2 separate regions of the Homo sapiens genome follow, and region 2 is linked to region 1. Evidence: fine-mapped expression QTL. Tissue or cell type: esophagus muscle. Region 1 holds a variant in brackets; the other region holds the start of a gene. All regions are shown on one strand. Distances are between the middles of the regions.

Region 1 (2,500 bases):
TAGAGCTGGGCCTTCAACTCGGCCATCTCCTCCTACAGACAAAGGAGCACAGAGCACATGAGGCATGCCCTATCTGAGAGCAGGCCTGGCTGCTGCCAAGTGGGTGGGTGGGGGGTCCCCGGCTATGACCCACAGGCCCATGGTAGAGTTCTCACTTTGAAGTTGGCAGTAGGATGAGTGGGAGGAGACGTGGCACCTGTCACCACACTTCTAAAGGAATGACGTATGGACAAGGCCATGCACTTTGTCAGTCTATGGACTAGACCTGAGACAGAAGGGTAGAAGTTACAGGCAAGATTGTGGTTCAATATAGGGAAAACCTTTCTAACAAATAGAGCCCCCACTCAGGCACATGGGCCTTGATGGAAACCCATTCTCTGGTCTGCAGAGGCTGAGCTGCACCTGCCAGAGGCTGTAAAGTCACCTATCCATGGAAGGCCTCTTCTGGCCAAGCCCCTTCCAATTCCCATTTTGGTTTCCATGGCACCAACCACATGTTTAATCACACCCACGGCACCTCTGTTGCCCTGTAGCTGGGCCAGGCATGCGGCGAATGCCTGCAGCAGCATCAACCTCCAGCTCTTGCCTACTTCTCAGGGCCCAAATGAAATCAATAGAAACAGCATCCTTCACAGGTGACTGCTCATCAGACAACTTCTAAAAGTATCCTAAGAACTCAAATGAGAGCGATGAGTGGAGAATACGAAGTGAATCCAAAATAGGACAGTGCCATCCTGGGACCAGGAGCCAGTAACAATGACAGCCAGTAGCCTTTACTGAGCACGTGGCACTGTGCTAAGTGTTCACATGACGTGGCTCATTTCATCTTCCCAACCTGGGTTAGGTATTGCAACTATCTCCATTGACAGATGGGAAACTGAGGCACACAGAAGGAAATCCCCCTGCTTATGGCTACTGGGTAAGCTGTGGAGCCACAGATTGCAGCCAAGCTGTCTGGTTCAGAGCTATACTGCCTCCCTCCCTTTCAAGGTGAGCCCACGCATGACTCTTGTCCCCGCACTTCTGCTGGAGAGTAACTCCACCAGCCCATGGCCACCAGGTCCAGCCTTCCCAGCCCACCGTGAGATGGACTCACCTGAGGTTAGTTCAGATTCTCACAACCCCCGAAGTCACCCTTCTGAGGTAATAAACCACAGGCCTGGTGCACTCTCCTGGGTAAGTTGGACTAGGGGGTAGATGTTTTCACTCTCAAATGTGGGGAAATGGGTAGAGGACACCCCTCGAAAGGGAC[A/G]TTAGTCAATATGCTCAGTAAACTACTCAGAACATGCCAACCTTCTTTACCCTAAATATCAGACATAAAAGCCAGAATGAAAGGTGTGCCACGCCCAGAGCCTTCGGATCTTTTGCCATTGGAAGCAGGATTCTGAAGGTTCTGGCAACACTGCATACTGAGCTAATGTGATGGTCGCTTCCAGAACAAACATATAAGTGCAGGCTTGAAAGAGGGAAAGAGAAACCTATGGGTGCCAGAAATGAAGAGGGAACTCTGCCAGAGAGAACGGCAAGGAGGGCAGGTGCTGGCCAGCAAGGCGTCAGACTGTCCTCAGGCCCTCCACCCGGGGGCTTAACATTACCCAAGGCCAGGGCCGTGGCCTCTGAGGCAGAGAGCCACAGCTCAGACCCCTACGGGAGCAGGATTCTCATCAGGCTGCCCATAAGACACTAGGAAACTTCCTTTCTGGAGATGTGACAAGTAAACTTGTCATCTCTCAGGCTCTGTGTGGGAAAAGAAAGAAAAATCTCTTTCCAGGAATTAAACCTCAAGCTTGTGTCATGTGTAGGTGTGGTACAGGAATCCAGAGCCAAGAACTTAATAACAACTAGTCCTAAACCTCAGAAACTGATGAGTCCCAACAGATCTAAACATAGAACCACTCTGTAGGGACATCTGCAACCCAGGATCCTCAGGGCCCCACGGAAGACAGTTTCCACAGAGGATGAGCTGGTGCTTGCATTCTCTCCCCCTACCCCCACCACCGAGGAAATGAGAATGAATCAGCACTGACGAAGAATGAGCGGATGCAAAAAGTAAGAGTCAGCATTTACAAGAAGCAGAAATAACAATGTGCAAAACTAGAAAATAAAGATTTAAAACAAAGTGATACAGGAGTCATAATGAAGGGATAAGATGTTCAAAAAGGAAGAGAAGGCCAGGCCTGGTGCCTCACATCTGTAATCCCAGCACTTTGGGAGGTTGACCTGGGTGGATGACTTGAGCCCAGGAGTTTGAGACTGGCCTGGGCAACAAAGTGAGACCCTGTTTCTACAAAAAAATAAACTTAAAAAGTCAGCTGGGTAGGGCAGTGCATTCCTGTAGTCCCGGCTACTCGGGAGGCTGAGGCAGGAGGATCACTTCCAGCCCAAGGGCGAGGCTATAGTGAGCCATGACTGTGTCACTGCACTCCAGCCTGGGTAACACAGTGAGACCCTGTTTCAAAACAACAAACAAACAAACAAACAACAACAAAAAGAAGAATGG
Region 2 (2,500 bases), 440 kb after region 1:
GTCTAAGTGACACAAATTTGGGCAGAAGTAATTATTTGGCCAAGCCGGGAGGCAGGAAGCTTAAATACCGCCTCTGTAGGAAGTGCGGGGGATCCGAAGCAAACACCCCAAAGTTTGTTTGTGAGTGGAGGCGCGGAGGCGCCCGGAGCCACGCCGAAGCTCACCTGGTCAGCGCACAGAGCCGGGTAGGAGTCGGGTCTAGCCCTAGTTTGCTCCTGAGCGCTTCGTTCCTCTCAGGCTACTGCGTTTAAATCAATACTGGGTGGCAAACGATACCCATTCTTTGGGCTCTGAAGTTTGGAATTCATGGGTTCTGCGGCACAAGAAAGTTTCTTCACAGGTTATTTCCCTGTCCGAGGCTGTCGCTTAGCTCATCTCCTCCCGGTGCGGCCCTGGGGTGTCCACCAAGCCGCCGGGCAGATCGCTGCCCCGTGCTGCGGCATCTTGATGCCCAGGACCCCGAGGCTGTGGGGCAGCCCCTCCTACCTGGGACAAGCGGCCAGAACTCCTTTTCCCACAGGGAAGAACACTCCAAGCCCCCGGAAGAGTGCGCATCCTAAGGAGATGTCTCCCAACGCCTAGACAAAGACAGCGCTGGGAAAAGTTGGACCAACTGGCACCCCCGCAAGGCGAACAGAGCAGTCCCCTCGGCCTTCGTGGCCGAGCCGGCTACGCGCTCTCGGAGTCGCGGCCAACTTTTCCCGCGAGCTTCTGAGCAACTTGCCGCAAGTTGGGGCGAGGGGGCAGAGCAGGGGTCAAGGGCGCGCGGAGGGACTGATCTCGCTCCTGTCGGTTTCCTCGTACCTCCCCGCGTACCTGCTGATGTATCCGTCCCCGTCGCCGTCGCACGTCTGGAAGAGGCGCCGCATCCTCTCCTCCTCGCCGGTGCTGGACGTGTCGCTGCTGCTGCTGCTGCTGCCGCTGCCGCCGCCGCCGCCGCCGCTGCTGGAGCTCCCCGCAGCCGCTGCCGCCGCGGCCGCCATCATGCGCCCGCTCCCTACTTGGGAGGAGGAGTACGCGCGACCGCAGCTGGAATCCGCGCGGCGCGCAAGCTGCCTGCAGCCCCGAACTTGCCTGACAACGGAGCATGCCCAGTGGCCGCCGGGGCGCTCCGGGCGAGGGATTCCACCTCTCCGGGTTTTGCCCGGACTGGGAAGATGGGCGCTCTGGAATCGCCCGAGGAGGCACCTCAGGGAAGAGGGAGGAGGGGAAGGTGGCTGGAAGAGTCAGGGAGCTAAGGGTGGCAACGGGAACACAAGAGGAGGCAGAATACACTGGAAGCCCCCGGGAAGGGTGTCAGCATTGTGCATCCGGCAACGACGCGGGCCCGGGACACTTGGGGACGCTTCAGGCAGAGGGCAGGTGTACTCCCGGCAGACCTTCTCCGACCGCCCGGAGTCATGGCTTCCTTTTCCAGAGAAGCTATATAAACACTCTCCTTCTGCAAACTCAAAACGGTGCTTGTAATCCCACTCTCCAGGATTGTTCCGGGTTCTGTACCCATAGCCACCAATGAGAACCGGAATGACTGGCCTTTTTATGAAATTTTGACACCTGTCAAGAAACCTGGCCCTCGCAGCCCTCATCTTGGCTCCCACTCTGTACTGGGAAGAGTCTGCACGCTGTGTGGCATTGTGTACGTTGGGTCAATTTCTGGAAACGGCTCACTCTACTGGCCAGGCATCACTAGAATTTCCCCCAACAGCTTTAATAATGCCAAGAGCGAACATAATAGATGGTCTCATTTGATCCACACTACAGACCTGGAAGATGCCTCTTTTATTATCAATCCTACGACTTAGGAAGTATTAATAGATAAGTACCTCATAGAGTTATCTTACATATAAAAGGAGAGCAGACATAATGCAGTTAGGACAATGTCTGACACCTAGTAAGTGCTCAACAACTGTTAGCTCTCATTGTTCCCAATTTACAGGTAAGAAAACTGAGGTACCAAGACCTGCTCAAGGTTCCAGGTTTAGTAAGTGTTAGGGCAGAGGCAAGCCCGGGCAGCCTAACTCCAGAGCAGGAGCCTTTAAACACTGCACTATTCCCCCATAGCCAAAGGGAAACCACAGTGAAGCAATTTGTGGTTTCGTGAATGACTCATTATTCTGTCCTGGATTTTCTGCCAGAGAGGCGTGTGAAGTTCTCTGGTGGTTTTAAAATATGTCCACAGATTCTTTGGTGCACCCCTCATCAAGAGGTGGAGTCTGTTGCTTCCCCTAAACCTGGATTGGACTTGTGACTGCCTTGACTTCTGAGACTAGGTTAGAAAAGGCAATGCAGATTGCACTTGGCTCTCTCCCTTGGGACACTTACCTTTGAAGCCTTGAGCTGCCTGAAAAGAAGTTTGGCTACCCTGAAGCTGGAGAAACCATGCAGAAAGACCATGTAAAGAAAAAAGGAGATGACCAAAGAGCTACAGCTGTTCTAGCCCTGGATCTTAGAATCTTCCCAGACTAGGTGCCAGACATGAGTGAGAGATGATGCTAGCTCT

Alleles and levels. Alleles are on the strand shown, and positions count from the first base shown. SD is a standard deviation of normalised expression in the study named.
In carriers of allele A in region 1, the expression in esophagus muscle of the gene that starts at base 1,025 in region 2 tends to be lower than with G alone (small effect, 0.26 SD a copy in GTEx).

What was found. PIP is the estimated chance that this variant, and not a neighbour inherited with it, causes the effect.
Region 2: MCC starts here. The variant in region 1 is fine-mapped to the expression of MCC in esophagus muscle (GTEx, PIP 0.94).

Annotation. Positions count from the first base shown.
Region 1 is chr5:113,049,268-113,051,767 of GRCh38, forward strand. MCC (MCC regulator of Wnt signaling pathway) reads right to left here. Exons shown (of 19, transcript NM_001085377.2): 16 at 1-32. Among named protein-coding and RNA genes, the nearest start is that of DCP2, 74 kb to the left of the region's middle. The variant A/G (reference allele first, on the strand shown) is at 1,253.
Region 2 is chr5:113,487,429-113,489,928 of GRCh38, forward strand. MCC (MCC regulator of Wnt signaling pathway) reads right to left here and starts at 1,025. Exons shown (of 19, transcript NM_001085377.2): 1 at 817-1,025. The coding sequence starts at 986. RefSeq lists an enhancer at 924-1,218.